2 linked regions of the Homo sapiens genome follow. The protein of the gene in region 1 interacts with the protein of each later gene in a biochemical or structural test. Each region holds a gene or a part of one and is shown on either strand. Other genes may lie near its edges. The genes, in order: GAB2 and CRKL.

Evidence for each region.
Region 2: the proteins of GAB2 (region 1) and CRKL interact in a test that uses a peptide from one of them, tested with the Homo sapiens proteins (one study listed by BioGRID).

Annotation. Positions count from the first base shown.
Region 1 is NC_000011.10:78,413,013-78,425,738, forward strand, and holds the start of GAB2 (GRB2-associated-binding protein 2), read right to left. Parts: upstream 4,809-12,726; 5' UTR 4,709-4,808; coding exon 4,634-4,708; intron 1-4,633. UniProt on the Homo sapiens protein: Adapter protein which acts downstream of several membrane receptors including cytokine, antigen, hormone, cell matrix and growth factor receptors to regulate multiple signaling pathways.
Region 2 is NC_000022.11:20,915,720-20,927,448, forward strand, and holds the start of CRKL (crk-like protein), read left to right. Parts: upstream 1-1,687; 5' UTR 1,688-2,215; coding exon 2,216-2,526; intron 2,527-11,729. UniProt on the Homo sapiens protein: May mediate the transduction of intracellular signals.

The sequences.
Region 1 (12,726 bases):
AGTTTCTCATCTGAGCAAGTAGGTGCTTAGTGGCACTGTTTACTGAGCAGATGTGGAGTGAAGAGATGAACAAAGAAGAGTTTAGTTTTGGAAGTGGTGAGTTTGTGTTGACTGGGAAACATTCAAATAGAGATGCCCAGTTAACAGTTGGATATGTAAGTCTGAAGTTCAGAACACAACTCTGAGATGGAAATTTAACTTGATGACCACCATGCAAATGATAACTGAAGCCAGTAGAATGGACAAGGTTGCCAAAGGGGAGAAACCACACAGCCACTATGACTATAAAGGAGCTTCAACCTTTAAGGACTGGATAAAAGGGTCAGTCTAGCAAAGGAAATATAGAGTAGCCAGAAAAGGAGAAATAACAGGCATTTATAGTGTCAGCCAAGATAAGAGGAAGGTGTTTTAAAAAAGAGTGGTCAACTATGACCAAGCAGTGAAGAGATTAATTAAAATGAGGAGTAAAAAATCATCCTCTGAGTTTAGTGACCTGGGTATCGCTGGTGCCTTTGTCAGAATAGCTTTGGTGAATAACAAAGTAGGTTTCCACTGGAGCCGACTGAGAAGAAGGTGGGAGAAAGGAAGACTGCATAAACCACCACCAAGTTTATCCCTGAAAAAAAGTAGGTAGTACAGAGAGGGAAAGAAGTTGAAGATGTGTTACAGGATAAGAATTATTTGAGTAGGGAGGAGAAGATATGATTCAAAGTATAAGTAGCAGGATTAGCTCAGATAGAAGTGGCACTTCATCTACTCTAAGAAAAGGAAACAAGAAAGGAACCATGCAGGCTGGGCGCGGTGGCTCATGTCTGTCTGTAATCCCAGCACTGTGGGAGGCCGAGGCGGGTGGATCACCTGAGGTCAGGAGTTCAAGACCAGCCTCACCAACGTGGTCAAGCCTCATCTCTACTAAAAATACAAAATTAGCCAGGTGTGGTGATGCATGCCTGTAATCCCAGCTACTTGGGAGGCTGAGGCAGGAGAATCGCTTGAACCCAGGAGGCAAAGGTTGCAGTGAGCCCAGATCGTGCATTGCACTCCAGCCTAGGCAACAAAAGTGAAACTCTGTCTCAAAAAAAAAAAAAAAAAAAAGGAAGAAAGAAAGGAACTATGCAGATACAAGTAAATTTGAAAATGTGGCCATTCATCGTACGTACAGACAACTACTCCCTCATCATTTCAATTTTCCTTTGAAGGAGAAGGCAAAGCCATTGCTAAGACTGAAAGACTGGATTAATTTTTTTTTCTGTTTACTGGATTTTTATTCCAAGCACCTGATCCAGTGCCTGGGACATAGATTTAATAAGTATATTTAATAAATATAATGGAAATAAACAATTACTGTTACCTTAATGCAGTAGTTCTTTACAATTTGTGCACAACTTTCTTCAAGTTAGCCACTAGGGGGTAGTCTGCCAATCTTATTCCCTCAATCTTTTAATCCAGTGAAATTGATAGAAAACTACAATGCAGTGTAGGTCATATTAATAAAATGTTTTTCCTCAAGAAAATTCTGTTTAATAATTATATACATGTACGTGTGTATGCATTTGCATGCACGCGCATACACACACAAATACACTGAGGCACGATGGGAGGGTTGTTACTTCTGCCGGCCTCCCACTGCAGCCATATCAGGATGCCCCAGAGGCAATAGTCAGCATTTTCCAGAGACACTTTTTGCAATTTCTCCAGGGCACTCAGTAAATAGCAGATAGGTCTCTTATACTTATACTTAATTAACTAGAAAAGGCTGATGAAAAAAATCCCTGAAAACTAATTGCTCAAACATTTGCCTTTGCTTCTTCTAAGATGTTTTTCCCCTCTACACCTTCCCGTCTTTCCGAATTAAGTAAGTTTTTTTGTTTTTCTTTGAAATGGAGTCTCGTTTTGTCACCCAGGCTGGAGTGCAGTGGTACGATCTCGGCTCACTGCAACCTCAGCCTCCCGGGCTCACGCGATTCTCATGTCTCAGCCTCCTGAGTAGCTGGGACTACAGATGCCCTCCATGACGCCCAGCTAATTTTTATATTTATGGTAGAGACGGGGTTTCACCACATTGGCCAGGCTGGTCTCGAACTTCTGACCTCCAGTGATCCACCCGCCTCAGCCTCCCAAAGTGCTGGGATTACAGGCATAAGCCACTGCGCCCAGACTTCAAATTAAGTCAGTTTTTTAAAAAATCGTTTTAAATAGTTATAACCTAGTTCAACTACTTTTTCCCCTTATCACATATGCTCGATGTATTCTTATAATGAGGATTTCTCAATCTACAATATAACACGCCTATGATGTATACCAGAAGCAGCAGCTACTTTGGGGTAAATATACAGCCATGGGGCTGGGAAATACTTTCCAAGCTTGGTTCTAATGAACTCGGGCCTCTACTGAAATAAGCAAACTAGCAGAGTTTTAACTTACAACAGGATGCAAAAATTCTGAATACCCCAAAAGAAAAGTAGATGTAAAGGCATACTGTTCCCCAGAGGCTTAAGGTTACACATATCACCAGTTTCAGTTAGGGGGAAACTGAACTTCCGAAGGGGCAGAGGCTTCCAGTCATGTAAGTGAACACATCACATCCTAACCTAAGAAAAGCTGTTACTTAAAGCTGTTAAGGTCTGACACCTGATGGGCTGAAGGTACATGGAAGATGGGAAAGAGAGGCTAAGGCCATCATACGACTAGATTCGTTCAAATCAGTGAAAAAGGTGCTTGACCCAAATGCCTCCAAACCTGGTTATTTTGAACTAAAGTTGTTTGGGAACAAAAACACCCAAGAAATGGGTCATAGAGTCTGGGTGAGAGTTCAAGGAGCGATAAGTCAAATGTAGATACAGTGTCATACTGTTTGCAAATTGTTTCAAAAACAACTTTCAAGGTTCTTTAGTGTATAGTGTTCAAACTTGAAAATTAAGGGTCACTTTTTTTTTTTTTTTTTTTACTGTGGACACTGTATTCCACTAGCTTGTATGGAAATCTATTTGTATAGATAATTTTTGGAAGCTCTTCGGGACAAAGTTTTTAAATTATTTATAAAATTGTTAATAGTAAATCACTGCTCCTTAATCCTAATTAAAATATTCAACCTTCCTAACGAACTGATACAACCCTGAAGAGGAAAAAAGTTTATTTCTTAATAATTATACTTTGGCTACATAGACACTCCTAAAAATGAGCTTCCGAACTGAGATGAACAATTCACTGCTTCATTCCTCCTATAAATCCACGTCCACTTTCAAAACTCATGTGCTAAATCCTTAGATTTTTTTCCCCCAGCAAACATCTACCTAAGAGCCTGATTTCATTGACACACACTTGTACTCCGCAACAACAACACTTCCTTTGAAAAACAGAATGTCACTTCCTCAGTCCAGAGGCCAGAAGTCCCTTGATTCTGATCTGGGGAGCCAAGACAGGAAATTCTGGTAGGCTTCTGCCTCTCCCCCCATGGACAGCCACTGGTGCAGCTGACAGAGGGCAGGGTCTATTCCGAGCTCCCTTGATGCACTGCAGCTGGAGGCAACGGCTCCCTTCCAGGCTGTGGGAGTGATCCCGGAGTTCGGCACCACAGCCCGTTAAACAAGGGCATTTCATGGGAAACGGAGAGGGAGCAGATGAGAGACCTTGAAACCTTCCAGCAACCTTACCCCCACTTCCAAACTCCCGCGACTACCCCAAGACCATTTCGGCCAAATCTCAGTAACTGGCACCATCTTGTACTTTGACCTCACCAGGCAAGGCATCCTCTGGGGAGAGGGGTTAAAAAAAAAAAAAAAAAAAGCCAGAACTCCACGGCTCAGCGCCACGCTGTTCCACCTCCCCCAGGCTGCCAGTTCCCCACCTAGAGGGAAAAGGCTGTTCCAGCGATCTCAGTAAACACTGTCGGTTGGCAACACCTGGCCGCGGAGAGCCTCGATCTCTCCCGACCCCAGACACCCGGGAGCTGCCCGGTCCCAAACCCGGGCCAGCCACGGGGACCAAACTGCAGTGTCACACCGGGGTCGGGGGGAGGCGCCTGTGAGAGACGAACGGAATAAAGGGAAAGAAGGGGGACAAACAAATGAGTCACTTAATACAAGGGCTGCACATGCCGCTGACGCTGCCGGTGATGCAGCCGCGGACGGAGGGAGGCCGGCGGCCGGGAGGGGCAGGCGGAGAAAGGGAAGGAGAGGGCGTGAGGCGCTCGCCCTTTGTGGGGCCGTCCGCGCGGCCCCACAGCCTACGCCCCCCTTTCCCGCCCTCTCCCCGACCCTGCGGGCTGAAGCTGCTCGGGGCTGCCGCGGAGCCCCAGCCCCGAGAGTCAACTCTCTCGGTCTCCAGAAGCCATCAATACAAAACTTCGACACTGTATTTAGTTCACGAGCAGACCGGCTTGGGAGGCGCCGCAGCCGCACCCGCCTGGCGGAGCAGGAGCCGCAGCCTCAACCTGCCGCCCGCCCCGCCCCTCGGCGGCCCACCTGTGACAGGTGTGCAGGTGCCCCACACGCCCCCGGCCGCTCCTCGCCCCCGGCCCCCCGCGGCTCCGGGCCCGAGCTCCCCAGCCTGCCGCCCCTCCGGGAGTCCCCCGCCCCTCCGCAGGCCCCGGAGCGCCCCCCGCCCGCCCCTGGGCGGCCGCGCCCGCACTCACATAGCGCCTCAACTTCTTCTCGGGAGGCGATTTCCTCAGCCAGCCGGTGCACACCACGTCGCCGCCGCCGCTCATGCTGCCGGCCTGGAGCCCCCCGCCGGGTCGCGCGGACGAGGGCGCGGGCTCGGGCAGCTGGGGCAGCGGCCGGCGGTGCGCAGCTCGCGGGAGGCCAGGGGCGGGGCGGGCGGCCCGGCGGGGACTAGGCGGCGCGGCGCGGCGCGAGCCCGGCAGCCTCGCGCGCGCCCGCTCCCCCGCCCCGAGCGCGCGCAATCCGCACTCTCCGCCCGGCCGCCGGGGGAGCAGCTGCAGCAGGAAGGCCGGCTCGCTCGCCACGCCCGCTCCCGCCGCGCCCCCGAGGCCGCCGCGCACGCGGACGCGGGGCTAGGGACCCGCGAGGATACAGAAAGCCACCGCCGCCGGCGCGCCCCGGAGTCTCGCTTTCTCCTGAGGCCCCAAGCCGCGGGCGCGGAGGCCAGGGAGGCGACCGCGCCCCTGGCGCTGGCGGGTGTGAGGGGAAGGGACTGCGCGCCCTCGGTCGTCGATCGATTTTTCACCGAGCGTCGACGGGGAAGGGATACTAGGGCTGCTCACATTTCCGATACATTCTGCGGGTCAGGTTCCGGCTGAAAGGAGGGACCCCTTCCCAGCAAGAAGCTCCTTAACTCTGGCGTCCCTCGGCGGGAGGAGGAGACGGACCTACTACGCGCCGGAGCCTTTGCTTTTGTAGCTTACAGGATTGTCTTCAGTATTGTTCCTATTTTATGGACAGCCTAAGGGCAAGGGCTTGTACAAAGCCGAGCCAATTTTCCAATTCAGGTGTGTGGGGGAGGAGGGGTCCCGGTCATCTGCTATTCAAAATGAGGGCATTGCCTTAATGGGATCGACCTGGGAGCCTCTCATTGCCTGGAAACCAAGTCCAGCTGACTCCCTCCTACACTGCCTCTGGGAAAACACAGTTTAGTATAGAAAATTCGCATGATTTGTAGAATGGAAGAAGCAAAACTAGTCAATGTATTTCATAACGAATTGGAAGGCAAGGTCAAGTGCAGAAGAACAAGAAATTGGGGTCCAAATTCCCCAACGTTCCCGCTCATTGACACAGGCTATGAGACCTCTGTTTGTAAATATAATGGTATCCCAGATGTACGTGGAAGCACACAACCCCAGCACTTCAGCGGGAGGGGGGAGAAAAAAATCTTTTGTACGAGCTCTTTTCTCATCACAAAGTGTCTCTCTAAGCAGCATTAAAAGGCAGGTCCTCCCTAACTTCTCTGATAAGTGGATAGTAACCTGTTTATTCAATGGGGAACCGTGCTGTGTGGACAGATGAATTGGAGAAGCAGCATCTTGCAGTGCCCCACACAACCTCAGACTAAAGCTGTTTTGTTTATTTCTGTCTCTGTGCAGCTGAGTTGTTTCAAGCAGTTGGACATCATTTGGTCCAAAAGATCTTGATTGGGTTGGGGGAAGTTCACCCTCCTCAATTTGGAAAAGCGAATCCCCTACCACGTACTTAGCTCTTCTAGATACCCTGGGAGTTTTAGCGGTCAGTCCCCTGGATCTAACATTTCACTGACTTTCTTCAATATCCAGTGTGCTGCTGGATGGGAAGTAAAGCCAGAACTGGTAGGCTGGGACCACAGCTCCCTTAACCTTACAATTTAGGGATCCTTAAGTCACGTATGAAGGGCCACCACCAGAATGATGGCCATTTTAACTTCTGGCTTTAAGTACCTTAAATCCCTGTAAGACAAACAACACTTAACGTCTGCCAAATCAATCAGGAGGCGGTGACTTCCAACCAAAATAAAACTATCCTGACTTCATTCACATCTGAGTCATGGTGCCAAGTCCCAGAGATTGCAGAGTCGGAGAAATCTGCATGGTTTGGCTGCAGCTGAGGTTTGTGATGCAAGTCAGGCATACGTATGCCCTATCTTCCCCCAGAAGAGTAGTCTTACGTATCCTTTGATAGTTACATGATTCAATACACAGACTGGAAGACTGTTTAGCAAGAGTTAGTGGGGGTTAGGTCATATTCTGCCAGAAATTCCTTAAAGTCTTATTTTGTTTGCTTAGGAAAAGATGGTGTTATTTACAATTTCATGTGGAAATGGAAAAGTTTGATGTTTCTTGTTTGGCCAATGGCAGGAGGGACCTTGAAATATGAATACAACAGTCACCAGGTATCGACTTTGGGAAGGGTTCTCTGAACACCCCCATCTTTCCCCAAAGGTTAAAGAAAGGAGCTTTTTTTTTTTTTTTTAGACGGAGTCTCGCTCTGTTGCCCAGGCTAGAGTGCAGTGGCGTGATCTCCGCTCACTGCCAGCTCCGCCTCCCAGGTTCACGCCATTCTCCTGCCTCAGCCTCCCTAGTAGCTGGTACTACAGGCGCCCGTCACCACGCCCAGCTAATGTTTTGTATTTTTTTTTAGTAGAGACGGGGTTTCACCATGTTAGCCAGGATGGTCTCGATCTCCTGACCTCGTAATCCGCCTGCCTCGGCTTCCCAAAGTGCTGGGATTACAGGCGTGAGCCCGGCCGAAAGGGGCTTTTTTACTGTGCTCTTCAGCTGGACTCCCACCCTGCGTCCCTCTTGCTGCTAGTGCCCATCTCGGGCTGTGCATAGGAAGCAAGACTGCTGCTCAAGTCCCTGGCTGCACCCTGGAGTGGCTCAGTCTTTTGAGCCTGAGAGGCGTGCCAGGCCTGGAAACAACCCTTGGACGGAAAGTTCCTGTCTGGGCTTTTACTAAGTCCTCTCCACTCCCTGCTGTGTGTGTCTGTTTAAATGGTCCCCGGTTTTTGCTGGGAAAAAAATGGAAAACAAATCATTTGAATGATTTACATGAAGATAGGCGCCATCTATCGGAACCAGTTGGGGTGACAATCCCCCCACCCCCAAGCCCTGAGCGGACATGCATCACTAGCCCATAATTTAGGCAATTTTGTTTAAAGACCACTGGTATTTCCTGGGGGAATTAATCGCCGGCTCCAAGAGTGCTTTGGGTCATTAATCTTATATTCTTATTAAATTCTCAGGAAATGACTATCTTATGAGGAGGGAGCACTGCAGAGATTAGAGAAATGCACACTGGGAGAGCATGGGTACCACTTTGGCCCCCGCTCATAGCTACTCCCACTCCCCACAAAGCCTGGGGTTCTAAAGGGTGCACTGTGGCTTTGAGTGTCGTCAGGGACATCCGTCGCTGCATCCGTGCCTGTCTGGGAGTTGAGGGTTTGTGGCCAGCGGCAGGTGCATGGCTGGTGGAATGCTTTCAGAAACGGGTTGAAGGGCTGGAAGGAGAGCTGTCCTCAACTGCACACCAAGCTTGTGTGATTAATACCACCCACGCCAGGCCTGACGTCAGTGATTGGACTGGGGGTGGGGATGGATGTTTGTGTGCTAGCCCTTCTGCTTTTTCTCCCCTTCAATTTAGTTGACAGGTTAATTTCAGAACTGAGTGCTGCTTACGAAGGTCAGTGTGACCAGCTGAACCACCTCAGCTGGTGTCTTTCAGGACACTCATCTCTCAGGCATATAAAGGTGTATGCTTCTTTAACCCCTAGTTACTTGAGGCCCACATGGTTCCCTATATCAAATTACCTTAACTTACTCAAGTCAACTCTGGGCATCTGGTTGAGGATGAGATCTGGAAGTGGGAATGGGGTGGGGTTAAAGACCTAATTGGGTTTCCTCCCTGTCTGTGGCTAATAGTCTGAGAGTTACTTGACACTATACCCAGTGGGAGACATTTTGAAAATAAACTTTTGGCCGGGTGCGGTGCCTCATGCCTGCAATGCCAACACTTTGGGACACTGAGGCGGGTGAATCACTTGAGGTCAGGAGTTTGAGACCAGCCTGGCCAACATGGTGAAACCCCAACTCTACTAAAAATACAAAAATTAGCTGGGTGTGGTGGCGGGCACCTGTAATCCCAGCTACTTGGGAGGCTGAGGCAGGAGAATTGCTGGAACCTGGGAGGTGGAGGTTGCAATGAGCTGAGATCGCACCATTGCACTCTAGCCTGGGCGACAAGAGTGAGACTCTGTCTCAAAAAACAAACAAACAAACAAAAAAAAACTTTCTTAGAGAAAAGCTTGAGCAATCCCATTTTCCCAATTTCTCCTTTGAAAATAACCAGAATCAGTGCTAATGGCTCTGTGGCAGTTAGGCTCCCACGACTTTGCTGCTGACACTGGTAAATCAGTTGTCATAATCCACCAAGAACAAAGACTGTCAAGATCCTTGAGAAAGTGCTGTAGTCTTCCAAACCACACTCTGCAATGCTGGCTCCTTTTATTTGCTCTGCAGAGAGAACTCCTACCTTGAATTAGATCTTGAACATACGTCAAGACCTCTTTCCCTAAAACTGACTGTCCCCATTCTCCAGCAAAGTTGTTCACTCTTTTCTTGGTATCCACACTGCACTTATATAAATTGGATTATCACACTGTACAGCAAATATTTCCTTGTCGAGGAATTGTGAGTTCCTTGAAGACATGAATGTGTTTTTCTCACTTATTATTTTTTTAGAGACAATGTCTTGCTATGTTGCCCAGAGTGGTCTCAAACTCCTGGGCTCAAGTGATCTTCCTGCCTTGGTGTCCCAAAGTTCTGGGATTACAGGCATGAGCTACCACATCTGGCCCTTCCTCATTTTTGTATTCCCAGAGCTTCCCAGCATGGTACCAGCACAGAATAGATGCTCATTAAATGTTCATTGTGAGAATGAAGGAACCAACCCTTAAAGGATGACAGGTTGGGGCTGTAGACTACTGGAACATCTAGAACTCTCTGATCCATACAAACCAGAGAATAGTATTTGTGAAGGTACCTATAAGTGGCTGGAGTGGTTTTTTTTAATAAAAATTGTCAGATAACATCGATGTGTTTATTATGTACAATATGATGTTTTGAAATATAAATACAAATACATAAAATACACTGTGGGATGGTTAAATCTAGCTAACTAACAAATGCATTAACTAATATAGTTATCATTTTTGTGGTAAGAACACTTAACATCCACTTTCTTTACATTGCGTTTAAACCCACAGGGACGGCCTAGCTGGAAGGACTTAGCAGGCTGAGGTAATCCTGTGCAGTTCCACTTTTAAAAATGGTTGTAACTCGACATAGAAAGGAACGAGATCATGTCCTTTGCAGGGACATGGATGGAGCTGGAAGGCGTTATCCTCATCAAACTAACACAGGAACAGAAAACCAAACACCGCATGTTCTCACTTATAAGTGGGAGCTGAACAACGAGAACACAGGACACAGGGAGGGAAACACACACTGGGACCTGTGAGTGGGTAGGGGGTTGGGGGAGGGAGAGCATTAGGAAAAATAGCTAATGCTTGCTGAGCTTAATACCTTGGTCATGGGTTGATAGGTGCAGCACACCACCATAGCACACATTTACCTATGTAACAAACCTGCACATCCTGCACATGTACCCTGGAACTTAAATTAAAAAAAAAAGAAAAATTCCAGAAACATGTGAGAAAATAAGATTCCCCCGAAATCTTAAAAACAAAAACAAAAACAAAAAAACATGGCTGTAACTCTTGGATAGTTTCAGAAAACAATGACTCCTTTTAACCTTTTAACTGGTACCCCCAGATTCCAGAGAACCAACTTTGTCAACCCTTGGTTTCCAAACTCTGACACTGTTGTACACTCTTTACACACCCTCCTTTGTGGGACTACAGAATTAAATCTCTTTGCGGTTACTCTGTTATCTGGCTTCACTGTGACAATCCTACAGGGGTTTAGCACTTAACCCCTTGTACCAGATGCAACACTAGTGAAGCTGGAGAAAACCATGTCCCCTGAACTCAAAGTGGCTTTATTCAACAGATGACCAGAAACGTCATTTCCTTCTGCACCTGATAAATTGCATAGTAACTGTGCAGGCTTGCTAGTCTTTGTTTTGCTGGGAACCTAGAGGCCTCAGGATTTCACCTCATCTAACTATATAATTCTACCAGAATTACCCAAGATGATTGTCCGACAATATAGCCAATGATGTGCTGGCAAATATTTTAAAATTGGCTCCCTGGTGGTGTTGGTGGGTGCCTTGATTTACAGTATATGCCAACTGTTGTGGCATAAATACTCTGCCAGCCATGGCCAGTTTTAAGCTATCAAGTTAATGTCCTTGAATACAGAGTTAAGAGATACACAGTAATACACCATTATTTAGTATTTCCAACATAAAGACACAATAGACATAAATAACACCAAGAACACAATAGTAAAATGTAATTAGCCAAGTGATGAGTTTGGGGTAGTTACTACCTTTCTTTTTAATATAACTTATTTAATTATAAGTTTATATAACTTAATTTTTAATTAAGATATTCACGTATCACAAAAGTCACCATGTTAAAGTTTATAATTCATGGTTTCTAATATATTCATCAACTTTGACAACCACCACAGCTATCTAATTCCAGAACATTTTCATTACCCCAAAAGAAACACCATATCCATTAGCAACTCTCCATTCCCCCAATCCCATCAGCTGGCAACCGCTAACCTACTTTTCATCTCTATGGATTTGCCAATTCTAGACATTTCACATAACCATATTCATACAATATGTGACCTGTGTGTCTAACCTCTTTCGCTTTGTATAATGTTTTCAAGTTTCATCCATGTTGAAGCACTTGACAGTTCTTTATATACCGCATTTTATCCATTCATCAGCTGATGAACATTACAGTTGTTTCCACTTTTTGGCTATTATGAATAATGCTGTTGCGATCATTCCTGTACAAGTTTTTGTGTGGACATACGTTTTCAATCTACGTATTTATCTAGGAGTGAAAATGCTGAGTCATATGGTGACACTGTTTAACTTTTTAAGGAACTGCTGACCTTTTTTCCACAGTGGCTACACCATTTTACATTCCCATCAGCAATGTATGAGGGTTCCAATCTGTCCACATCTTTTCCAATGCTTATTTCCCTTTTTTTATTACAACTTAATTTTAACGATGTTCTACTTTAACAACCATCTTGCAAAATTCTTCACAATTGAACAGTCTACTCTCCTGGGTTGATACCACTGCACACAGCCACCAAAGAAAATCTCACCACCATCTCACTAGTCAGTTCCACTTCTTTTTGCTGGCAAGAGCAATACTCAACAGATTTGAATTTCCTTCCTCTTACATCCTTCCTATAGAAAACTGAAACAAAAGATCTCAGGTTCCCTTCTCTTTGGTAATTGAGATGACTTTTGACTGCTGGAGAATCACAAGGTTTTCAGCTCCCACCAGGCACCCCAGCAGAACAGGGTTTGTTTCCCTCCTACATTTGTGTTGAGAAACAAAACTAAACCCAAAATGTATCTTAGTGACACCCAGATGTATCTTCCGGAGGAGCTCTCAAGCAGTTGCTTCAACAGGGCAAACAGCTGTGGTCTGTTTCAACATAATTTGATGTAATCAGGGTTAATTCTGATGATGTAGTAACTCTGAAGACTGTTTTTTAACTGGATTATTGTTGGGTCAACAATCATGTGGCATTACATTTAGTGGCTGAAACAAAAGCCAGAATTAAAACAGCTTCCCCTCAGCCCCCACCCACCCCTTCTAAATGACAGCCTCACCGGGAATGTAAGTTATGAGGCACATTTAACACAATTAACCAAAAAAGGAAAGTAGGTGCAGTCAAATTACCTGCAAGCATCTCCAAGGTCCAGTGTCAATCTAGAGTAAGAGCTGGAAACTTTGTTGTTTTTTCTTTTCCTAGAATGGTTAGAAAATATGTTGGCAGCAATCAGTATAATTTAATATTTTCATAACATTCTAGGAAAAAGCCCCGAGATTTTCCTCTGAAACTTTCCTGAACCAGACAAATGATTTTAGCAGTTCACAGTTCCTCTGTATTTTCCATGCATGTTTTCAAAATGATTATTGTAAGTGAACACTAAATTCACGGTGTGGCATACCAGGGCTGAAAGAGTGTGGTATACAAAGCTCTGAACACATCTGGCACTGTTTCTGAAGAGCAAGGTCTTTATCTTATTTTCATAGATTTGGCCATCATTGTTTATGGTCAGTCCACTTGCAGGGTCTGGG
Region 2 (11,729 bases), on another chromosome or scaffold:
AAGTCTGAGACGAGCCTGGGCAACATGGTGAGATTTCGTCTCTATTAAAAATCAAAGGCCGGGCGCGGTGGCTCACGCCTGTAATCCCAGCACTTTGGGAGGCCGAGGCGGGCGGATCACGAGGTCAGGAGATCGAGACCATCCCGGCTAAAACGGTGAAACCCCGTCTCTACTAAAAATACAAAAAATTAGCCGGGCGTAGTGGCGGGCGCCTGTAGTCCCAGCTACTTGGGAGGCTGAGGCAGGAGAATGGCGTGAACCCGGGAGGCGGAGCTTGCAGTGAGCCGAGATCCCGCCACTGCACTCCAGCCTGGGCGACAGAGCGAGACTCCGTCTCAAAAAAAAAAAAAAAAAAAAAAAAATCAAAAAAATTAGCTGGGCATGGCAGCGCGAGCCTGTAGTCCCAACTACTCGGAAGGCTGAGGTGGGAGGATCCCTTGAGATGGGGAAATCAAGGCTGCAGTGAGCCATGATAGTTCCACTGCACTCCAGCCTGGGTGACAGAAGGAGAACCTGTCTCAAAAACAAACAAAATAAAACAAACAGGCTGGGCACGGTGGCTCACGCCTGTAATCCTAGCACTTTGGGAAGCTGAGGCAGGCAGATCACCTGAGGTCAGGAGTTTGAGACCAGCCTGGCCAACATGGTGAAACCCCGTTTCTACTAAAAATACAAAAATTAGCAGGGCATGGCGGCGGACAGCTGTAATCCCAGCTACTCGGGAGGCTGAGGCAGGAGAATCGCTTGAACCCGGGAGGCGGAGGTTGCAGTGAGCCGAGATCGCGCCCCTGCACTCCAACCTGGTGACAGAGCGAGACTCCGTCGAAAGAAGGAAAGGAAAGGGAAAGGGAAAGGAAAGGGAAAGGGAAAGGAAAGGAAGAGAGAGAGAGAGAGAAAGAAAAGAAAAGAAAAAAGAAAAGAAAGAAAGAAAGAAAGAAAGAAAGAAAGAAAGAAAGAAAGAAAGAAAACAAACAAAAACAAATAGGGATTAATAAATAGGCAGAAGCAGGCATAATCCGGGGCAGGGGAAGCCTCGGGGCCACGCCCGAGAGGCATTTGTATTTTACTTTCAGCAGTTCAGAGCCCATGATAGCCAGGTTACCCACTTGTGGACTTCCTTGACCACTTAATTGAGTCAATCTAACCCTCACCTTCTCTCTCCTCTCACTCCATTTAGCGGGTCACGTAGCCACTAGGGCTTCCTTAGCCTATCAGGCCACCTGGGGACTGAGTCATTCAGTCAGTCACCTATCTGGTGGTCACATCTGCCCCTGGGCTCATCCTTTTACTGGGCCACCTCGGCCCATCGGGACCTGTCAGTCCTTGACCTCCCTCAGGCCCCTAGGCTGGCCAGGTCGCCTCAGTGCCACGCCTCCCTGGCCCGCGATTCAGCCTGCACGTTACGCTTTGTTCCCAGAAGCAGGTTTTCGAAACGCGGTTCCCTCTCGGCTCCAGCTGTTTTCCTGCCAGCGCTGGGAGACCCGGCAGCCGCAGCGCCCCCAGCGGCGCGCAGCGGCCCAGGAAGAGAGTGCCTACCGCCGGCGCCTCTTCAGCCTCCTCCTGGAACGCGGGAGCGGGCGCGACCAGCGCCCACCCTGATCGTCGCGACGGTGCTCCTGATTGGCTGCGCTGTGTGACGTAACGGGAGGGCCCCGGCGGCCGCCGGGAGCCGGGGCCCAGCGCGTGCGCAGACGGAGCGCGCTGAGCGGAGGGGGAGGTGGCTGCCGCTTCTCCCGCGTCCGCCATTTTGTTGCTGTGGCTATTGGGAACAAGCTGGGCAAAAGCACCCCGGAGGCGCGACGCTCCTTCGAGTTCGGTGCCTCGTGTGACGGCGGGGGTCGGTGAAGACCCGTCGAGCTGCGGCGCCGGCGCGTTCCAGGCCGGGAGTCACTGGAGGCACCCCTGGGACGCCGAGCAGCCCGAGAACCCCGGGGTGGCCTCCGCTGCGGCTCGGGTTTGCCTGCCCCGACCCCCCGGCTCTGCCGTGCATTCCCGGGCGGCTCTCTCCGTGTGGCGGCCCCGGAGCAGGCGGGCGGCGTCGGAGGATGCTGCGGGCCCGGAGCCGAGAGGAAAGTGCTGGCCCAGCCCTCTGAGCGCTCCTCGAGGTGTGCGAGAGGCCCTTCCTCGGCCCCAAAGCCGTCTGCCGGGCTAAGGCGTGCAGAGCAGGCGAGGACAGCCGCCGCCCCTACCGCCGCAGAGTCCCCGGTCCAACACCATGTCCTCCGCCAGGTTCGACTCCTCGGACCGCTCCGCCTGGTATATGGGGCCGGTGTCTCGCCAGGAGGCGCAGACCCGGCTCCAGGGCCAGCGCCACGGTATGTTCCTCGTCCGCGATTCTTCCACCTGCCCTGGGGACTATGTGCTGTCGGTGTCCGAGAACTCGCGGGTCTCCCACTACATCATCAACTCGCTGCCCAACCGCCGTTTTAAGATCGGGGACCAGGAATTTGACCATTTGCCGGCCCTGCTGGAGTTTTACAAGATCCACTACCTGGACACCACCACCCTCATCGAGCCTGCGCCCAGGTACGCGAGAGCCCTCCCCGACCGCGGAGGAAGGTCGAGAACCGGGTCTGTCGAAGAGTGCTTGTATAGGGGGGTGGGGCGCGCTTGAACCCATATTCCCCGCATTCTGAACCAAATTATTTTCCAGAAGGCCTTCCTAACAGAAAGCTAGTGTCAGGATCTGGGTCACTGGATAAGAGGATGCGTTTTTTTTTTTTCCCTCTCACGAGGCTGTTTCTCAATGTGAAGAGGATGCGTTTTGAATGTTTAACGGTGGTTGCATAGTTAAAATGCACGCTTTTTGCCTTTCGTGACTTTCTCTGGGTGTAATACTGATGCAGGGATTTGTTGGTTTTTCTAAAAACCTCTTTTTTTTTTTTTTTTTTGAGACGGAGTCTCGCTGTGTCGCCAGGCTGGAGTGCAGTGGTGCGATCTCGGCTCACTGCAACCTCCGCCTCCCGGGTTCAAGCGATTCTCCTGCCTTAGCCTCCCGAGTAGCTGGGACTACTGGCTCACGCCACCACACCCAGCTAATTTTTGTATTTTTAGTAGAGACGGTGTTTCACCATGTTGGCCTGGATGGTCTCGATCTCTTGCCCTCGTGATCCGCCTGCCTCGGTCTCCCAAAATGCTGGGATTACAGGCGTGAGCCACCACACCCGGCCAAAAACCGTTTTTAAGCCATAGACTTCTTTGAGAATCTGAAGATAGCCGAGCACTCACCACCCCACCCCCACCCCCACCCCCACCCCTCCCCGCCAAAGGCACGTACACACAAGTTTGCACACCATCCCGGGTGCTTGTACTCCCTCCAGATCTCTGAACTCCAGGTTAAGAACTCCAGGACTGCAGCCTTTGGAACAGTCAAAAAAATGAAAATGCTTTAGCGTTTAGAAACAAAAAAACCTTTAACCAAAATATCAGAACTGTATATTGATACTGTGGTGCCAAGTTTGAAGCAGGCCAGACACCACCACTTTTATAGTACGTTAATTACAAAGATAAGAGAAGGTGCATTGGCTTCAGCGAGGATATTTTTTGGAAAATTTATTGCATATTTTCTCCCCGAGGACCATTAGTAGGCCAGAGATCAGTCTGGTTAATTTCCAAGGTGGAATTAGGCTAGAATGTTATTAAGGAAAATTTTTGAATGACACTTAGTTGTATCCTAGTTCAATTTCAGACATGCTTTTTGTGTTAAGTCTAATGATTTTGTATTTCTTATTTTAAAATTAACGCAAAGTGACCAAGCATTCTCTTTTCCAAGTGAAATACGTTATTTTAATTGATTAGTTGCTTTAATTTGCCTTAAGCGTTTTAGCAGAGATTTGCTTTTATTGTTGTGTTTGCCCTGTAACACTGATTTTATCAGAGGTTTCTTTTATTTAAATTATCCCAAATTTGAGTTGAAAAGTTGCCTAGAATTTTTAAAGTAACAAACTGGCCAGTTCGTTTCTTAAACATCTATTTTAAAAGGACTGGGTGTTGATACAGTTTTTCCAGGGTTAGATGTTTATGACTTTATGGATTTGTCGACCGGGTATTACTCTAAACTTTAAACATTAAAAGCTATTATAATTGAGGACACCAACTGTTTGCATAGTGGGATAGAGATAGAAAAAAAAAAGCCATGACAGTATAATGACTACAAGATTAACTACTGAACTAAATGGACTTTAAAAGTGGGGAGAAAGTGATTATAAATCAAATACTGTATAACAAAGACCAGGACACCAAGAATCTGATTGGTGAAACCTGCGGTTCCTGGCAGATGCTGGTAGTTGCAGTCAACTTTGAGCACAATATAATTCCAATTTAAGGAGTTGAGAATCTTAGAACCCACTGTAGTGAGATTTGTAATATGACTGAATAAATTCTTCCTCTCGTTTGTGAGCGTGAATTATATAATTAATACCAGGCATTCATTAAGCCATGCATATGCTTATGTTGAGGTCATGAGTACTAATAATACAGCTGTTTCAAAAAGCAAGTTAATGGGCGGGTGTGGTAGCTCACGCCAGTAATCCCAGCACTTTGGGAAGCCAAGCCGGGCGAATCACGAGGTCAGGAGTTCAAGACCATCTTGGCCAACATGGTGAAACCCCGTCTCTGCTAAAAATACAAAAAATTAGCTGGGCGTAGTGGTGGGTGCCTGTAATCCCAGCTACTCGGGAGGCTGAGGCAGGAGAATCGCTCGAACCCGGGAGGCGGAGGTTGCAGTGAGCCGAGATCGCGCCACTGCACAGCCCGGGTGACAGAGTGAGACTCTGTCTCAAAAAAAAAAAAGGAAAAAGTTAATGACTTGAGTCTCCTTCTAGAGGAAGGAAAAGAAGTATGCCGCTTCTCTCTATCCACAGAATCGCCTCCAGATTTTCCGTACATGCATGCATCTTCTTAGAGAACAAGCATGTAATTCTGTCTTTGCCCTCTTTCGTCCTTCCTTTACTGCAGCTGTACTAGGCTGCTCACTTATTCCCTGGTAGCCATCCTTCCTTACTCATACCTTTGTACCTTTGCACCTTTGCTCCAGCTGTTGGCTCTTCACTGACTGCCTTAACTACACCTCACTCTCCATCTGTTGAAATCCTACCTGTTGTTCCAGTCCCCTCACAGATTATAGGGCCTTTCTCTGACCCTACCCCTCACGTTCAGCTTTGTTTCTCCTTCTCTGTGCCCTCTGCCTCAGGCCTGTTGCTTTAATTTAGTTTTTCATTTTCCTAGGTATCTCTGAAGGAGATCACCATGCTGGTTGAATTAGATCCTGACTGAGTTTACTTTGTTATACTGAATCTTCGAATTGCCACTCCCAAGCCTGGTTTTCATGGCTTAGGTTTAACATGTTATTAGCCTTTTATAGAAAGCTAGTGACTACTAGAGCCTGGGCCAAACGGAAAACTCAGTGTAATGCTTCTTCGCATCCCAAACAGGGTACATTTAGTGGCTTAACTTTGCAGGCATCAAAACTGAGCTTTTAAAGCCAGAGTTTCATGCCTCTTGGCTAATATTTTGGTTTATCTTGCATAGCTAAAATTTGTAACAATAATGTCCTACTCGAAATTTAAGGACTGGTGGCTTGCATTGTTATAGTCTTATCCTTTTCATTAGAATGCTTCATAATTTTTAATTTTATATTTTTATTCAAATGTTTATAAGAGAATTATAACCCAGTGTAACCCAGTGTAGGTACTGGGAAAGATGTGTGACAGACATACTTTCTTCCTGTGGAACTCCTACTGTAGTGGAGAAGACAGACTGAAAAGTAGAAAAATAAAGTACTAGTAAGATCAATATACAGGAGGGACCTACCTGGGGTGGCGTGGTCAGAGAAAGCATGAAGCTAAGACCTGAGGGTAAAGAAGAACCCAGCCTAGGCAAGGCTTGGCCTGAGAGGAGGAGAAGAGCCTTCCAAGTTTAGGGAAAAGCTTATGTAGATGTCCTGAGGTGAGAAAGTCCATTGTGTTGGGAGTGTGTTTCTTTTCTTTCTTTCTTTTTTCTTTTTTTTTTTCTTGAGACGGAGTCTTGCTCTGTCGCCCAGGCTGGAGTGTGCGATCTCGGCTCACTGCAAGCTCCGCCTCCTGGGTTCACACCATTCTCCTGCCTCAGCCTCCCGAGTAGCTGGGACTACAGGCGCCTGCAACCATGCCGGGCAAATTTTTTGTATTTTTAGTGGAGACGGGGTTTCACCATGTTAGCCAGGATAGTCTCGATCTCCTAACCTAGTGATCCGCCCGCCTCGGCCTCCCAAAGTGCTGGAATTACAAGTGTGAGCCACTGCGCCCGGCTTTTTTTTTTTTTTTTTTTTTTTGGTAGATGACGTCTCACTCTGTGGCCAGGCTAGAGTGCAGTGGCCCAATCTCGGCTCACTGCAACCTCTGCCTCCCAGGTTCAAGTGATTCTCCTACCTCAGCCTCCTGAGTAGCTGGGACTGCATGGGACTACAGGCACCCGCCACCATGTCCGGCTAATTTTTGTATTTTTAGTAGAGACAAGGTTTCACCATGTTGGCCAGGATGGTCCCTATATCTTGACCTCATGATCCACCTGCCTCAGCCTCCCAAAGTGCTGGGATTACAGATGTGAGCCACCCTCTCCGGCCTGGGAGTGTGTTTCTTAAAGGAGAAAGGGGGACATATAAAATGAGTTTGGAGATAAAGATCAGGGTCAGGAATTGGGTTTTTATTTAAAGTGCTGTGGGCTCCAAGGAAGGAATTTGAGGCAGAGGAGTGACCTGGGGCTGTTATTGTAATCCAGCTACAAAATGATGGTGACTAATAGTGACAGTGGAGCTGTGACTTGGAGATGCCTATTTTGGAGATAAAATTGATTTGCTGGTGGGTGGGGATGAAGGGAAAGGGAAGAAGGGATGATTTGGTCTATTTGTAACTTTGTTATCTTCTGTGTTTTTATCTTTAACTGCTTTTTGTATTTGTGGTATTCCTATGGTGGATTTTATTTTATTTATTTTTTTGAGACCAAGTCTCCCTCTGTCCCCCAGGCTGTAGTGAAGTGGCATAATCTGGGCTCACTGCCACCTCCGCCTCTGGGGTTTAAGATTCTCCTGCCTCAGCCTCCCTAGTAGCTGGGATTACAGGCATGCACTGCCACACCTGGCTAATTTTTGTATTTTTGGTAGAGACAGGGTTTCACCATGTTGGCCAGGCTGGTCTTGAACTCTTGACCTCAAGTGATCCACCTGCCTGGGCCTCCCAAAGTGCTGGGATTACAGGTGTGAGCCACTGCGCCTGGCCTAGCTCTAGTGTATTTTTATTTAATAAGGGCTGTTTCCAGTTTAACAACAGAATGCTTCAGAAGGTAGCTTGCTTTGTTTGACATTTTCCATTTCTAGCTTGTGTCGATAGATAAATTCAGGCTATGAAGAAAAATTAGAATAAATAAAATTTTACCATTAAAAACTAAAGGAAGTTGGCCCTTCAAGAAAATAATGTACTGTACTCAGCAGACTTTGAGCATTACATGTACCTGGTAATATGGAACCAACATTGAATCAGACAGCCCTATCATGCTTCTGAGGAGCTTACTGGTTACTAAAAAAAAAATTTTTTTTTTTTTGAGACGGAGTCTTGTTCTGTCGCCCAGGCTGGAGTGCAGTGGCGGGATCTTGGCTCACTGCAAGCTCCGCCTCCTGGGTTCACGCCATTCTCCTGCCTCAGCCTCTTGAGTTAGCTGGGACTACAGGTGCCCGCCACCATGCCCGGGTAACTTTTTGTATTTTTAGTAGAGACGGGGTTTCACCGTGTTAGCCAGGATGGTCTCGATCTCCTGACCTCGTGAACCGCCCGCCTGGGCCTCCCAAAGTGCTGGGATTACAGTTATGAGCCACCGCGCCTGGCATTTTTTTTTTTTTTTTTGAGACAGAGTCTTGCTCTGTTGCCAGGCTGGAGTGTGGTGGTGCAATCTTGGCTCACTGCAACCTCCACCTCCTAGGTTCAAGTGATTCTCCTGCCTCAGCCTCCCAAGTAGCTGGGACTACAGGCGCACGCGCTACCACACCTGGCTAATTTGTGTATTTTTAGTAGAGATGGGGTTTCACCATGTTGAGCAGGATGGTTTTCTGTCTCTTGACCTCAGGGGATCTGCTCGCCTCGGCCTCCCAAAGTGCTGGGATTACAGGCGTAAGTCACCGCGCCTGGCTACTAAAAAAAAAAAAAATGTAAAGGTTGGCTGTGCTCGGTGGCTCGTGCCTGTAATCCCAGCACTTCGGGAGGTTAAGGCAGGAGGATCGCTAGATCCCAGGAGTTTGAGACCAGCCCTGGCAAGATAGTGAGACCCCATTCCCACAAAAAATTAAAAAATTAGCTGAGCATGGTGTCATGCGCCTTTAAGTCCCAGCTACTTGGGAGGCTGAAGTGGAAAGATTGCTTGAGCATGGGAGGTCGAGGCTACAGTGAGCTATGATCATGCCACTGCACTTCAGCCTGGGCAACAGAGCCAGACCTTGTCTCAAAAAATGAATGAATGAATGAATGTAAGTTGTATATATTTAATATATTTAATCTCCATGCATGGTGAAACAGCTGTGGGAGAACTGAGAAAGGGTGCTTAGTCTAACCTGAGAGCCCAGAAGAGGAGCCTCACACACCTGTGAAGTAGAAGCCAATCCCTGAAGGGACAGGAGGAAACAAGAAGCATGGTTGTGCCTCCTCTTTACATCCCCTGTTCTAATTATTTAAGAACTCAAATCTAGACTTCCATAATTTGGAATGGGGAAAGGATTGCCAGTAATTTTAATCAGCATAGAATTCAACTCTGTGAATAAACCCCTTTGCGTTTCTCCTGACCAGTAGTTAAAATCATGTGAATTTGATTCAGAGAAAAATACAAGAACATGGCCAGGTGCAGTGGCTCACGCCTGTAATCCCAGCACTTTGGGAGGCCAAGGTGGGTGGATTGCCTGAGTGCAGGAGTTTGAGACCAGCCTGGGCAACACGGTGAAACCCTGTCTCTACTAAAATACAAAAAATTAGCTGGGCATGGCGGCGTGTGCCTAAGAGGCTAAAGGCAGGAGAATCACTTGAACCTGGGGGGTGGAAGTTAAAGTGAGTCGAGGTCGTGCAGCTGGACTCCATCCTGGGCGACAGAGTGAGACTCTCTCCAAAAAAACAAAAAACAAGAACACTGTCATGCTGAGAATGGAATCTTGTCCAATTAAGAGTTGTGTTCCCAGCCGGATGTGGTGGCTCACGCCTGTAATCCCAGCACTGTGGGAGGCTTAGGCGGGCGGATCATGAGGTCAGGAGATCAAGACCATCCTGGCCAACATAGTGAAACCCCGTCTCTACTAAAAATACAAAAACTAGCTGGGCGTGGTGGCATGCATCTGTAGTCCCAGCTACTCCGGAGGTTGAGACAGGAGAATCGCTTGAACCTGGGAGGCAGAGGTTGCACTGAGCCAAGATCACACCACTGCACTCCAGCCTGCCAACAGAGCGAGACTCCGTCTCAAAAAAAAAAAAAAAAAAAGAGTTGTGTTCCCATGGAAAGTACTAGTAGCCATTCGATTTGTGACTTTTAAAACTCAAATCCACAGAATTGTGACCTAAATTTTTCCTTTTGATCTGAATGATTAGACTAGATTTCTGAGGGTCTTTAAGATTAAAATATTTTAATTCTGGGCCGGGCGTGGTGGCTCACGACTGTAATCCCAGCACTTTGGGAGGTCTGGCAGGTCGGGAGTTCGAGACTGAACCTGGGAGGCAGAGATGACAGTGAGCCGAGATTGCGCCAGCGCCACTGCACTCCAGTCTGGTCAACAGAGCGAGACTTCGTCTCGGAAAACAAAAAACAAACAAACAAAAAACATTATTTTAATTCTTTCAGATAAGTAAAAGGGGGCACAGCCTATTAGTTGGGAGTTCAGATTAACTTGAGTTGAATCTGAGCTAAAATCATAACAAGTTGGGTGGGGCCACCAGGCACATAGCAACTCACCTGGAATGAACGTGACAAGAACAGTGGAAGAGGATGAGAAGAGGCTTTGAAGGTGCACACTCAACGGTATTCGAATTCTGTCACACCAGTTTTGTGACAGTATTAAACCAGAGTTAGGTAATTTGAATACCTGAGCTTTTGTGCTTTCAGAAACAAAAAAGGAGGGAAATAGGAAAGGGAAGTTCTTTGATATATAGAGGCCTACAATATACCAAAGCTCACTGCTAGACTCTTGGAATCTAATGGAAGTAAACCATGTTTTTGTTTTTGATTTTTGTCTTTGAGAAGCTTTGGTCTATTGAAAAAATTAGAATGCCATGACAGCTTAAAAGCAAAGGCAATCAACTGTACCTAAGAGGTGGGGAGAGGCTTGAAAGAGGAGATGCTCTTCAACTGATTCTTTAAGGATGAGAACAAGTATACGAGGTAGAAGAGGTGGTGGTAGAAGAGATGGTGGCAGTGCTTGCTGGTAAAGACACAGTTATAATTAATGTAGATGATGGGCAGGAACCTAGGAAGGAAAGATAAAGCCAACTTGTAAAGGGCCTCCTCAGCCTTGTAAATGAGCTTAACAATGGGAGCCATCTAAAGTTTTTAAAAAGAGAACTGTCAGATTTTAAAAGGAGAACTGATGAGTTTTACTTTTGAGAAACTGCTCTGGGTGGGGAAAGATCTGAAGGACTAATTCTCTGTTACTGGAGAGGGACCCTGAGAAGCTGAGCCAAGATCAAATGCCATAGGAATGTAAAGTGGCACATAGAAGGTGAGGGGAGAGGTATGATGACTTCAGAGAGGATTGAGTGGTGCCTTTGAGACAAGAGAAAGGGATTAGGGTGGGTGCGTGATTCTTTTCAACAGGAAGAATCTTTCTTTGAGGTACCTGCTGGAAGCCAGGTGGTATTTAGCAATCTGATGGGTTTGTTATTGAGAAGAGAGGTAAGGGCTGAATACATATAGATTTGGGAATCGCAGCTTAGATGGGATCACCCAGAATGAGGAGGCAGAACAGGAATAAGTAGAGAAAGAGAAGCTGCGGAAGGAGAGGCAGCCACAAGCATAGGAGGAGGAGCCATTAGTGATGGCCTGAAAGCCCAGGGACAGAAGGGAGGGGACCTGGGCATTAAATGCTGGTCAGTGATAAAGAATGGTGGTTACTGGCTGGACATGGTGGCTCACGCCTGTAATCCTAGCACCTTGGGAGGCGGAGGCAGGTGGATTGCCTGAGCTCATGCGTTCGAGACCAGCCTGGCCAACACAGTGAAACCCTGTCTCTACTAAAATATAAAAAATTAGCCAGGCATGGTGGCGTGCGCCTATAGTCCCAGCTACTCGGGAGGCTGAGGCAGGAGAATGGCTTGAACCTGGGAGGCAGAGATTGCAGTGAGCCAAGATCGCACCACTGCACTCCAGCTTGGGTGACAGAGCAAGACTCCGTCTCAAAAAAAAAAAAAAAAAAAAAAAAAGAATGGTGGTTAAAGCAGTTTCACTAGAGAAGTACTTAGCTCATCTTGGAATTGAATTTTTTTTTTTTTTTTTTGAGACAGTGTCGCTCTGTCGCCCAGGCTGAAGTGCAGTGGCATGATCTCGGTTCACTGCAGTCTCCACCTCCCGGGTTCAAGTGATTCTCCTGCCTCAGTCTCCTGAGTAGCTGCGATTACAGGCGCCCACCACCATGCCCGGCTAATTTTTGTATTTTTAGTAGAGATGGGGTTTCACCATATTGGACCAGGCTGGTCTCAAACTCCTGACCTCAGGTGATCCAATTGCCTCGGCCC